Linked DNA regions of Homo sapiens. The protein of the gene in region 2 interacts with the protein of the main gene of each other region in a biochemical or structural test. Each region holds a gene or a part of one and is shown on either strand. Other genes may lie near its edges.

Region 1 (7,026 bases), on a different chromosome or scaffold from region 2:
TTATATAAGTAATAGGACCTTATTTTGAAGGTTCAAACTGGAGAAAATCTTACATTGTTTATATTTTTATTTCATTTATTTCAGTTGATTTGCTTGAGATCAAGATTGCAGATACAGAATCCATATTTCGTGTATATTGCTGATATTAATCATTAAAATCGTTTTTGACAGTTTGACAGTTAAAGGCATTTCCTGTGAAATAATACTGGTATGTATTTAACCATGCAGATCCTCAGTTTGTGGTCTGCCAGCTAAAGGTGAAGATATATTCCTCCAATTCAGGACCCACACGACGGGAAGACAAGTTCATGTACTTTGAGTTCCCTCAGCCGTTACCTGTGTGTGGTGATATCAAAGTAGAGTTCTTCCACAAACAGAACAAGATGCTAAAAAAGGTTTGTACTTTACTTTCATTGGGAGAAATATCCAAAATAAGGACAGATTAAAAGCTATATTTTATTTTATGACATGTAAGGAACTATAATTTGTTTTCTATTAGATCTGCAGGTGTTTTGCTTACTCTGGCATTGGTGAGACATTATAAGGGTAAATAATCCTGTTTGAAGGAAAAGGCCTTATGGCATTGTAACATGAGAGGAATTTTTCTTAACAAGGATGGTTAACTGAGAAGAAATTAGCATGGGACCAATATTTTAAAAATTTTGGTCTATAGGTAGAAATGAGATCTGTTCTGTGGTCTTATGTAGTGACACAAACCACTTTTTCTCCATTTTGGCTTATGTTTCTTTTTCTTTCCTTTTTTTTTTTTTTCCTTTTTGTTAGAGACAGGGTCTTGTTCTATTGCCCAGGCTGAGTAGCTAAGACTACAAGCATGTGCCACCACACCCAGCTAATTTTTTTTATTTTTATTTTTGTAGGGACAGGGTCTCACTATGTTGCCCAGGCTGGTCTCAAACTCCTGGGCACAAGCAGTCCTCACGCTTTGGCATCCCAAAGAGTTGGAATTACAGGTGTGCGCCATCATGCCTGGCCTTAACGTTTCTTAAGACTTGATTATTTTCTATTTAGCTTCTGTGGATTTACTGATTAATTTTTTAACTAGGAGAGAAATCAGTATGAAGAGGAAGTAATAAAGAATGAAAACATGGTATTTAAATGTGCAGGTTTAGAAAGTTAATGAAGTTTGAATTTGATTGATCTGTATTTAGAGAAGGCAACGTCTTATTATTTTAAAACCAACTATCCGCCCTGTGCGGTGGCTCACGCCTGTAATTCCAGCACTTTGGGAGGCTGAGGTGGGCAGATCAGCTGAGGTCAGGAGTTCGAGACCAGCCTGGCCAACATGGTTAAACCCCATCTCTACTAAAAATACAAAAAAATTAGCCGGGTGTGGTGGCAGGCGCCTGTTTTCCCAGCTACTCAGGAGGCTTGAGGCAGGATAATTGCTGAACCCGAGAGGCGGAGGTTGCAGTAAGCCAAGAATGCACCATTGTACTCCAGCCTGGGCAACAAGAGTGAAACTCCATCTCAAAAAAAAAGAAAAAAAAAACAACAACTATCTTCATTTAAAATATTAAATGTGAATATTTAAAGTGAGACTAAGGTGCAACATTTTTAGATAGTAATGAAGAAAAGGACTAACTTTGTAGTGTTGCTGCCTTGTTAAACATACTAGATAGCATATTGCCAATCTTTAAACATTCTCAATGATAGGATTTATTTACTTTTTCTGATTTTTAGCTTTTCTTTTGAAAGAAAATAAGAGGAAGTTTCATTTACTGCAAAATTTTAAATGCTGCTTTGATGTATCAGTAGAGATATAATTTTCCTTTATCCAGAATCCAAGTAGCTGGAAAAAAAAATCAAAATATGCTGAACTTTTTTTTTTTTAGCCAGAAACCCATTTCCTATCGTCTGTACAAATAAAAGTTAAATATATCTCAATAACTTAGAAAAATTATTTTTTGATAATCCAGGAAGTATTAGCAACTGTTTTAAAATTAAGATAACTAGTAAGTTTTATTTAGCTTTCAAAAATAGGCATCTACATCATCATCTCTGCATACCTTTAGGAATTTCCTAATTCTTATTTCCCTTCATCTGTACTTTAACACATGCAAAATTGAAGGTTAGATTAAATATTTATGATTTATTTGTTTATCCTTGACTACATAAATTTCCATTTTATTGATTTTCCCTGCCTTATTTAAGAATATGCTATGATTAAAACACAAAAAATTTTAGTATAACCCATATATATATAGAATTCACCTTTTTGTTATTTAAATATTATTGGCTTATTTTCTTCTAAGTAAAATACAATTACTGGCTAAAATAATTGAAATAAGCAAAAAAAAAATTTTAAAGACCTTGTATACAAGATTACTTTGCCAGGTACTGTTAAAAGATGCAATGACATTTAAGACGTAACATCCTTAAGGATCTTATTTTCTGGGGGATAAAAAACTTTAAGATAAATTAGAATAAAAGATTTAAATGGCATTTTAAGGTACCAGGTACCAGATAAGATGTCACAAGGCTGTATATCATTAATTGCCAAATGATTTATACAGGCCAGATTTCTTTGTTGGTCAATAGAGGTTTAAAGTGATGAACTTCTGTTGTGTTTTTTTATTAAGAAGGTATTATCTTATTAGTAAGAAGTGATTTTTTTTAAGAACAAGCATTTTATAACATCAAAAGAAATCAGTAGTACTCTTTCCTACCCCCTCATATTTATTCTGAAAGTATTCAAGCATTATATTGTCATGTAAGAAACTGGAGCTTCTCATGTTTGTATTGCTGTAGAAGTAAACATGTATTTGCCATGCGTCATCAGGGAAGTTGCACTCACCGTCCAAGAACTTTTGTTAAAGTAAATCTTGGAATAGGTAGCTCATTTGAAATGTAGAAAAAATTAAATCCATATCTGAATTTTGTTTATATGTATGTACACGTAAACTAAAAACGTATTTAAAGCTAGTATTAGATGAGAAAAGAGGTTTTTTTACTTAAAATTTTAAGGCAAAAGTAGTTTATCTTAGATCTTGTGAGATTGTATTTTTGGTTTAAAATTTGAGAATTTGAGTGAAGAAAAATCATGTGAATGAAAATGCAACAGATAACTCAGATTGCCTTATAATAGTCTTTGTGTTTACCTTTATTCAGAATATCAAATGATAGTTTATTTTGTTGACTTTTTGCAAATGTTTAACATAGGTGACAGATTTTCTTTTTTAAAAAAATAAAACATCATTAATTAAATATGTCATTTCATTTCTTTTTCTTTTCTTTTTTTTTTTTTTTAGGACAAAATGTTTCACTTTTGGGTAAATACATTCTTCATACCAGGACCAGAGGAAACCTCAGAAAAAGTAGAAAATGGAAGTCTATGTGATCAAGAAATCGATAGCATTTGCAGTATAGAGCGTGCAGATAATGACAAGGAATATCTAGTACTTACTTTAACAAAAAATGATCTTGACAAAGCAAATAAAGACAAAGCCAACCGATACTTTTCTCCAAATTTTAAGGTCAGTTAAATTAAACATTTTGTGGGGGTTGTTGACTTGTATGTATGTGATGTGTGTTTAATTCTAGGAGTACAGCTGATGAAGAACTTGCTTGACAAGTTTTTAACTTATGTATTATTTCGAAGCAGTGTTTACGTAGCAGTAACATGAAAGTTTCTAATAAAATACCCAATGTACACAGCGTCAAAAAAGCTGCATTTTTCCTTTTCCTAATTCTTCGTTGTTTGCTGAAATCTGGGGCAAAGGTGCGGGAGGGGGCTAAATGACTGGGATATGAAGTAGGAATGGGAGAGGAAAGAAATAGATGGGAACTCAGTCATTTGGGAATGATTCATATGGAATGTTTTTACTGCTTCCACTCCTGTCTGCCTTCCAATTTATTCTCAATCCCTCAGAGTGATCTTAAAAATAGACTTGATTGTGTCACTTCTGTTTACACTTTATAAGGACCTTGTGTTTTTTTTTTTACCATGACCTACAAGGCCCAGCATAATTTAGCACAGGGCTACCTCCTACATCAGCACTAGTCACCTTCTCTCCTTGTTTCTTGAGATTCAGTCATACTGGTCTTTCTTCAGTTCTTCAAAATGCTAAGCTTCTGCCTCTTCTAGTCTTTCCAGTTATTTTCCTTCTCCCTGTACCTTTTCATCTCAGCCTTTTCCCCTGACCTTCCATAGCTATCTTCATATTTCCAGCCTTAGCTTCAATCTCATATTCTCTGAAGTCCTTTGATTGTCCTCCCGTTATTCTTTTTTTAAAAATCCTATTTCCTTATATTGTATCTTAGAATTATTTGGTTTGTTTCATTTTTGCCTATGTGTGATATATGTATTTCTACATAGGTATATATATCTACTTATAGACAAGAATTCTTCAGATTAAAAAAATCTGATTTGTAAACATTCCCAAGTGGTTGTTTACCATTTTTTTCTTCCCCCTTCCTATTTCTTATTCTACCTGATTTTCCCCTGTTCATTCACCACACTCGTTTCTTTCTCTTTTTTACTCTCTCTTAATTTTTCATTCAATTTTTATAACATGTAATAAATCTAACTGTAGCGTCTGAGTATTAAGAATATTGCTAGTAATACTTCACCTGTAATCCCAGCACTTTGGGAGGCTAAGGCAGGCGGATCACTTGAGGCCCAGGAGTTTAAGACCAGCCGGCCAATATGGCGAAACCCTATCTGCACTACAAATACAAAAATTAGCTGGGCATGGTGTCGCACACCTGTAATCCCAGCTACTTGGGAGGCTGAGGCACAAGAATTGCTTGAGCCTGTGAGATGGAGGTTGCAGTGAGCCGAGATCACACCAGTGCACGTGCACTTCAGCCTGGGCAACAGAGCAAGACTCTGTCTTAAAAAAAAAAAAAAAAAAAAAATATATACACACACACACACACACACACACACACACACACACTATTACTACCAATATACATACATATATGTATGTATGTATGTATGTATATTGGTAGTAATAGTAATACTTGGGCCCCTGCACGTTTTAAGTGAAAATAGATCTAATATTAAATGTCTTTAGCCCTTAAATTTTTTTTAAGTGTTCAGAAGTTTCCCTTTAAAAAAATTTTTAATATATAATAATTGTACATATTTATGGGATACAGAGTGATATTTTCATGTATGCAGTGTGTGATGATCAAATCAGGATAATTAGCATATGGATCACCTCAAACATTTGTCATTTCTTTGTGTTAGGAACATTCAAAATTCTGTCTTCTAGCTATTTGAAAATATACAGTAAATTATTGTTGACTAGTTACAGTTCTATAGAACACTATAATTTATTCCTCCTGTGTGTAATTTTTTATCTTTTAACCAACATCTCCCTATCCTCCCCTCCCACTCCCTTTCCCGGCCTCTAATAACCACACTCTTATGAGCTCAACTTTTTTAGCTTCCATATATGAGTGAGAACATACGGTATTTATCTTTCTGTACCTGACTTATTTTACTTAACATCATGTCCTCCGGGCTAGACATTCTCTTTAGAATCCACAGGTTTCCTTTCTTTTCTCTAAATCTGCATTTTGCTCAGCCATTAACTTTTAAAATGTCTTTTTCCCTTTAGTTTTATTGTTTTCTATTTTAATATTGCAAGATGTTTTATATTTGTGATTACAAATAAAAACTCCATTATTAGTAAACAAATACAATGTCATATAGTAGTAAGTGCTATAAAAAATAGACAGGATAGAAAGTAATCTTGGTTTGTATGTTTTTTGTTTTTTAGCAAAGATGATTAGAGAAGGCCCAACCAAGCAGATAACATTTAAGCAGAGGCCTAAATCATATAAGTGAGTTATACAAATATCTGGGAAAAGAGTTAAGAGTACAGATGCAAAAGCCCTTAGACAAGAGAATGAGCTTGGTATATCTGAAGAGTGGATAAGTCATTTTGACTGAAACAGAGTGGACAAGAAAACCAGTCCAAGTGTAAAGACACTAGTGTGTGTTCAGCATAGGAAGGATGTAATCTGAATTTTGTGTTTAATATTCCCTGTGTTCATGCTTTCAAAATACAGATGAGTGAGGAAAGTAGGGAGAAGGGGTAATAAAGGAAGCTGAGAGATCAGTTAAGAGGTACTTGAATAGTTTAGTAAAGATGAGAGAAGATGTTTGCTTCTTGTTGCCCCTCACTGCTTAGAATAGTGGCAGTGAAGGGTAACAAGAAGCTGTCAGATTAACTTAAAGAGTTTACTGATGCAGTGGATGTTGGTTGTAAGAGAAGAATTGATAATGACTCTTGGATAATAGGGGAGGGAGGGGCTGTCAATATAATATAATGAAGAAGGGATTTGAAGTCATTTCTGATTTAAATCTCACATCCACTACCTACTTTTAATAGATATGTAGCCTTTAACAAGTTCCCTAACCTTTCTGGGCCTTAGCTACCTCCCCTTGGAAATGGAAATACCTAACATGTAAGGTTGTTTTGACAGTTATTTTCACTAGGCATGTAAAGGCACTTGACTCTCTGTTATAGACCACTGTATTATGTTAATGTCCCTCTCCTTCCTCCCTTTAGGTAAAGTTTTTAGGGCTAATAAATCCCAAATATCAATGTTGATCAGTAGTTTGTGTTTGTGTAGTGTTGTTTATATCAAAAACTACATTGAAGCCGGGCACAGTGGTTCACGCCTAAAATCGCAACACTTTGGGAGGCCAAGGTGGGCCTCCCACCTTGAACTAAGGAGTTTGAGACCAGCCTGGGCAACATGGTGAAATCCCATCTCTACAAAAAATATAAAAGCTAGCTGGGTGTGGTGGCATGCACCTGTAGTCCTAGCTACTTGGGAGGCTGAGGTTGATCCTGGGAGTTTGAGCCTGCAGTGAGCTGTGAAGATGCCACTGCACTCTAGTCTGGGTGACAGAGCAAGACCCTGTCTCAAAAACACACACACACACACACACACACACAAAGAAATACATTGATTTTTCACATAGGTAGTAAGAGAAACATTCTTTTTGAACTCAGCTGTTTGTGAATTGAATTTTGTAATTCAAAT
Region 2 (7,094 bases):
TACTGTCTAGATAATAGATATAACTGTATTCCTAACATATGCTAGTTCTTTAAGTAGCTTATAGCATAAAGTTTTGTGAACACTAAACAAACTAAACACAAGTTAAAAAAAAAAAGCACATAAACTAAATTCACTTCAAGAGACATGCATAACACGTTTTAGCAAAGGTACATTTCATATCCATTACATTAACTAATGGGGGGGGAGGAAAAGCTTATCTATTTCTGCCAGTACTAGAAGGGATGGTATACATCACCTTCCTCTCCCTCCTAATATTTCAAATTCATTTCTCTTTTAGGTAAGTAGACTTCTAATCCAGTTTGGAACAAATAAATTTTCGATGTCTTGTTTTTGTTTCAATGATCTTAATTAAAATATATTCAAATTATTTTAAAATGTTGTGTAAATAAACAAGAGGCTAATCTGACAAAATTTTCATACTAAGATATTAAGAGCACTTTAAATAAATCTACATGTACTCTTTGCCTTGGTCTTATTAGTAGATAAAGGACATTGTTACTTCACATAATACACAGACTTGTTTACCCACTCCAACACATAGGTGCTTGTTAAATGACTATTTGGGGCACTAGTAAGCTTGAAGAACTCCGGCCAGAAGTGAAGAGCAGCAGCAAAGAGCCATTTACAGCCAGACTCTAAAAGTGAACAATTTACTCAAACAATAGAGGCATTTATTGGATTTAAAACACTAGTCAAAATAAAGCCCACAATTTAAAGAAATTCTATGTGGTTTCCTACTGAAGTTTCTAGCAGTTGTGATGTCTTCAAATTCTCATTTAAGATTTTATTTAGAGTTAAGTCACATGAGAGATACTTTCAATGTTGTCATCTCAATACAAACCTGCATACGGCATTTCACTAAATCCAGGGGAACCACAGCAGTGTGTGTCAGACCACAACTTAAGACCCCACCAAAGCCACACAGTGCATAATACTTCGCGGAGCCAAATTCACAACTGTACTCTGTAGTAAGAGAAGACACACCATGCATTTTAATATAAAACTCATGTTACTGGTCATAAACTTACCTCCTGGACAGTTAGGTTTCCACACAGCTTGTTAGATGACTATATCTTATAACTTAACAGTCAGTCATGCTTCAATATGCTCTAGTCCAGCATGCAAAACAAACCTGCATTCTGCATTTAACCAGATCTAGAGGAACCAATGCTGTATGTGTTGTGCCACAGCTAATAATTCCTCCAAGTCCACAAAGGATAAAGAATCTGCCAGATCCATAGTCACAGCTATACTGCTCTGTTTGATTGGAAAAAAAAAAATCAAGTAAGTATTTCTTCAGAGATGACTAAGGCCACTGGAATGAAAGAAAATGTTTCCCTGTGAGATACTATTATCACAGCTGAATAGCTTTGGCCACAATTAAGTGGCTTAAAAAAAAATTCACTGCCAAATTCAGATCATTTAAAAATTATGAGGGTTCTGTATCTGATACTATTAATAGCTCGTATTCTGCCATATTAATTTTTTTAAAAGTTTTCTACATTAACGGCTTTTACAATTAAAGTCAAACTTCAAATTATTAACCACTGGTAAGAGCACACTTCAGAGTACAAACGAAACTCAGAAAGATCACTCGACATGTAAAAGGCTTGCAAACAACTTCAAAGTTTATCCCAGCCACTAACCAATACTATCCCCACTTAAGAACTCCTGTAACATAAAAACGGATACGCACAAATTCCTGCAGTCAAATACATTTAATACACAAATAATGTTAGCTTTAACTTTTAAACTGAACGACAGATAGTGTAAATAAGGACTCTATCCATACTAAAGACAACAGAAGCACATGAATGATTTAAAGAAAAAAATCTTTCGATTTTACAGGCACAAGGTAGATAACATTCTTAGGACTCCTACAATTCGGTTTTCAGGTTTCTCTGTATGTACATACTTCACTAGGATTTAAAACACACACAACTAAGTTAAAGCTGGGCCCAACCACCAAGAATCCCAAGAGATAATCACACCAAAGGGACGCCCACCAATTATCTCCTTTCTATTGCCTATGTAGGGCTGCAAGCTGCCTCCTCCAGTCGCACGAAAACAGGACATCTAGTTATCTCATATACAATTAAGTGCAAAAATGACTGACCTGGCGTCGACAAATATAAAACTTAGGAAAGGACTATTTTTAAGAAAACTAAGGGCAAATCAAAGGACAGGTAATATAGTTAGTAGAACTGTGGGTGGTCAGTAGTTTCGGGAGGAGAGTTTACCCAGTACTTAGTTTGCTGACCAAGCGAGCTCACGGCGGAGAAAGAGCTAGTCACGGCCTCTCTTCCCTCGGGCACACGGAGGTCACGAAGGGACACAGGGCCTCAGCGCTTCCACGCCCTTGAGGGAAGGCCAAGGATCTGACACCCGCCTATGGTGGAAAAGGCCGATACCCCAGGGCAAGCAACTGGGCGCCGTCCTACGGTGCAGCGGGCTGGACTCGTCCTTCCCTGTCCTCCAAGCCGGGTCCAGGCCTCAAAGGCTGGGCGGCCCACAAGTAGACCACACGACTGTATTGGGCAGGGTCTGATCTCACCTTCCACGGCGGCGGCTGCCAGGTTGCGAGGGCGGCGGGGCTGGCCCGTGGGCCCTGGGGAGCTGCTGCGGAGGTCCCCGAGACCATCGTGCACCAGCTGCAGATGTGGCGTGTTGAAGGGGTTCGCCCGCGCCAGGTGCGCCACGGACGAGAACATCTTTCTAGGGGAGGAGGGAGCGACGGTTAGAGGACAGGCAAGGCGCCGGTTAACGTTACCGGCGCCCTGGAACCCCAACCGGGGCCTTTTCCTTCCCGTCTCCACGCCCTTGAAGAGGTCACGGCGGCCTTCGAAAGAGGCTGCTCCCGGCTGGGCCCACCGCCAAAGCAGCGGCCCCACAGGAGCTCTGGGCTCCGCTCCCCACACCCGCCACAGGAGAAGGCCCGGCCACACTCACTCCCTAAGATGGCGATCACACAACCACTCCCTTGGAAAGGTTGCGGCTCACAGAGGCCGGACGTCCTCCGGGTCCTAAGATGTGTGCCCTTCGCGCGTCGTCGGCGTGACGCACACAGCGCGCCACTGCAAGTACGCGTCGCCCATTGGTGGAGAAGAGCGCCGAGCCCGTAGCGTCATCGCGTTCTCCTAGCAACCTTATTCCCGCCCCTGCCCGCCCCAGCTCTTCCGCCCGGCTTGTGCGCGGGAGGATTCGTTCTGCGCAGGCGCGCGTTCCGGGTCTATATTTTTTGAGAGGGGTCGGGCTCGAGCTCTTACCCTGCTCGCTTTGTCCCTTCACCTTCAGGTGTCTCTCCTTGACCACGGGCTTCAGTTCGCTTCACTTAAGTGAATCACAGTATCTAGTAGTCACTTAAAAAACAAAACAAAACGCGAATGCTTGATAATATATTTAGGTGTTGGAGTTACAACATCACTGCAGTACTTTGTGTCACAACTTCTGCCATTACAGTACTTTTTAAAATAAGTTCCATCCATTGACATTAAACATAGGTATGTCTGTATTTTTCATCAGACTCCTGGAGAATATTTTAAAAAGAAATGTGCAGCAAGAAGTCTTACGACAGCTTGCCGCGTTATCACAGTAATCTACAGAACACGTTGAAACATTGAACTCCTGAGATGTTACAGCGATGAACTACTGAAAGTGACTGATAGCAGATTGTGCGTGTGTGTGGTTAATACATTTAGGAAGCTTTCATTAGATTCAGCTCAACAGGGAGGGGCGTAGTTTAGTTGGGGAGAGTTTAATAGGGATTCAACCTGTTAGACTTCTGACTCTTATATTTTCCAAGCTCTTGACAAAGTAACCTTGGGAATTTACTTCATCTCTGTGTACCTGTTCCCTAGATGTAAGATAGGGGTGGGACTGGCCTCATAGGTTCACACTGGTACAGTCACACATGGCCTTACACTTCATTTAATGCTCTGCTGTCATTTTGATTTTTTTTTTTTTTCTTTTGAGATGGAGTCTTGCTCTGTCGCCCAGGCTGGAGTGCAGTGGGGCGATCTCAGCTCACCGCAACCTCCGCCTCCCGGGTTCAAGCGATTCTCCTGTCTCAGCCCCCGGAGTAGCTGGGACTACAGGCGTGCACAACCACGCCCGGCTAAGTTTTCTATTTTTAGTAGAGACAGAGTTTCGTCACGTTGGCCAGTCTGGTCTCGAACTCCTGAGCTCAGGTGATCCGCCCACCTCGGCCTCCCAATGTGCTGGGATTACAGGCCTGAGCCACCATGCCCGGCTTGAAATTCTTAATACATGTATGAACAAGGGGCCACGCTTTTTTTAGTTTGCACTGGACCCTGCAAATCAGGTGTCTGGTTCTGGATGGGAGTAATACTTACCTTGCAGAGTCTATGAGAACTCAATGAGATAATGTCTAAAAGTCTACAGAAGATGTTACCTAAAAAAAGTTAGCATTGGCCGGGCGAGGTGGCTCACGCCTGTAATCCCAGCACTTTGGGAGGCCGAGGCGGGCAGATCACGGGGTCAGGAGATCGAGACCATCCTGGCTAACACGGTGAAACCCCGTCTCTACTAAAAATACAAAAAATTAGCCGGGCGAGGTGGCGGGCGCCTGTAGTCCCAGCTACTGAGGAGACTGAGGCAGGAGAATGGCGTGAACCCAGGAGGCAGAGCTTGCAGTGAGCCGAGATCATGCCACTGCACTCCAGCCTGGGCGACAGAGCAAGACTCCGTCTCAAAAAAAAAAAAAAACAAAAAAACAAAAGTTAGCATTGAGGCTGCGGCATCACGGCACTCTCTAAGCAACCCTATCCCAGACCCAGCCCTTCTGGCCCAACTAAAGTCCTACAGTCCCAGGAAGAATTCCAGAGTGGAGGGCACAGGAAGGGAAGTAGTGACAGATAAAGTTAAAAAAGTACACTAGCACCTGATTGTCCAGGGCCTCACATACCAGACTGAGGAGTCTGATCTTATGTAGACAGAGGTAGTCACTGAAGGGTCTGGACTTTCTCTCTCTCTTTTTTGGTTAATTCAACTTTATGGTGCTTTTCTAATTTAAAAATCCTTTGTCATGAAAAAGTCAAATATTATGTAAAAATATATGACTGTAGTGAATCTTCCTATTCCCTTCCCCCAGCACCGGGTAATACCGTGACCCTTTGCTGCACATTTTTTCAGCTGGAACAGCTGGTACCCTTCACCATGGGGCTGCACATGCTCGTGGCCCAGAACTCACAGAAGTTGATCTAGAAGATACAGTGGTAACTGAAGGAGCTGCAGGCCCAGCTCCTACCCCATGTGGGAGCTGGTGACCTTCAGAATGTAATGACTGTTGCTCCACTTCTGCCTTCCAAACTGCACACATTTCTCTTATAGCTAGCCCTAACCCAAAACTATGCAGGGAAAGGAATCTAGGAAATGTGGTTCTAGCCTAGCTAAGTTGACATGGTAAAAAAAACACCACTGGGCTTTGCAGGCACCGCTGCTGCCAGGAGCCCTGTGCTATCAGCCATGGTCAACCCCACCGTGTTCTTTGACACGGAGCCCTTGGGCCGCATCTCCTTTGAGCTGTTTGCAGACAAGTTTCCAAAGACAGCAGGAAACTTTCATGCTCTGAGCACTGGAGAGAAAGGATTTGGCTATAAGGGTTCCTGCTTTCACAGAATTGTTCCAGGGTTTATGTGTCAGGGTGGAGACTTCACATGCCATGATGGCACTGGTGGCAAGTCCATCTACAGGGAGAAATTTGATGACAAGAACTTCATCCGGAAGCATACAGTTTCTGGCATCTTGTCCATGGCAAATGCTGGACCCAACGCAAACAGTTCCCAGTTTTTCATCTGTGCTGCCAAGACTGAGTGGTTGGATGGCAAGCATGTGGTCTTCAGCAAGGTGAAAGAAGGCATGAATATTGTGGAGACCATGGAGTGCTTTGGGTCCAGGAATGGCAAGACCAGTAAGAAGATCACCATTGCTGACTGTGGGCAACTCTAATAAGTTTGACTTGTGTTTTATCTTAACCACCAGACCATTCCTTCTGTAGCTCAGGAGAGCACCCTCCACCCCATTTGCTCGCAGTATCCTAGAATCTTTGTGCTCTCACTGCAGTTCCCTTTGGGTTCTATGTTTTCCTTGTTCCTTTCCATGCCTAGCTAGATTGCAGAGTTAAGTTTATGATTATGAAATAAAAACTAATTAACAACAGCAACAAAAAAAGTACCAGAGTCTATCGGTTGTCAACATGGCATCAATGAACACCTCTTGTAATCATATTTAACTTCCAGACAAAAACTAAAGAGCAAAATCAGACTTCTACCTAACATGAAGCAGCTGTCCCTTGGACAATTGTGAACAAGCTAATTCTACCCAAAAGAGGATACAAAATCCTTTTATCCGTCTTTAGGTGATGTTATTGCAGCAGGTATGGACTAAGACAAGGGGGTTGGCCTCCTTAACATTCAAGAGGCTCTCGGCCTCCAACCTGACACAAGTAGGGAAATTGCCTGAAGGACCATAACTCTCCACTGTGGAGATTCAAATCTGCCTCCCGGGTTCAAGCAATTCTCCTGCCTCAGCCTCCGGAGTAGCTGGGATTACAGGCACGCGCCACCATGCCCGGCTAATTTTGTATTTTTAGTAGAGATGGGGTTTCTCCATGTTGGTCAGTCTGGTCTCGAACTCCCAACCTCAGGTGATCCACCTGCCTCGGCCTCCCAAAGTGGACAGTAGGTTTTAAGAAGAATCAGCAGATCCCGCCAGGCAACCACCTCAGGTGAGGCCATTACAGATTTCACAGGGACGAGGAACATAACCTCCTCAGACAGGAGAGGAAGGGCTTCTTTGACTGACAAGGAGGCTCAACAGAATTTAGGGGTTCTGGCTGGGCATGGTGGCTCACGCCTATAATCCCAGAACTTTGGGAAGCCGAGGTAGGTGGATCTCTTGAGTCCAGGAGTTAAAAACCAGCCTGGACAACATGGTGAAACCCTGTCTCTTAAAAAAAAAAAAAAAAAAAAGCCAGGCATAGTGGCATGCCCCTGCAGTCCCAGCTACGCAAGAGGCTGAGGAGGGAGGATCACTTGAGCCTGGGAAGCAGAGGT

What was found. The genes of interacting proteins can lie anywhere in the genome.
Region 1: the proteins of SLC25A3 (region 2) and PTEN form a complex in vitro, tested with the Homo sapiens proteins (2 studies listed by BioGRID).

What each region holds. Positions count from the first base shown.
Region 1 is NC_000010.11:87,957,625-87,964,650, forward strand, and holds part of PTEN (phosphatidylinositol 3,4,5-trisphosphate 3-phosphatase and dual-specificity protein phosphatase PTEN), read left to right. Parts: intron 1-228; coding exon 229-395; intron 396-3,269; coding exon 3,270-3,494; intron 3,495-7,026. UniProt on the Homo sapiens protein: Dual-specificity protein phosphatase, dephosphorylating tyrosine-, serine- and threonine-phosphorylated proteins.
Region 2 is NC_000012.12:98,589,617-98,596,710, reverse strand, and holds the start of SLC25A3 (solute carrier family 25 member 3 isoform b precursor), read right to left. Parts: upstream 3,026-7,094; 5' UTR 2,971-3,025; exon of another isoform or gene 2,737-2,970; 5' UTR 2,733-2,736; coding exon 2,576-2,732; intron 1,279-2,575; coding exon of another isoform or gene 1,154-1,278; intron 985-1,153; coding exon 863-984; intron 1-862. UniProt on the Homo sapiens protein: Inorganic ion transporter that transports phosphate or copper ions across the mitochondrial inner membrane into the matrix compartment. Mediates proton-coupled symport of phosphate ions necessary for mitochondrial oxidative phosphorylation of ADP to ATP.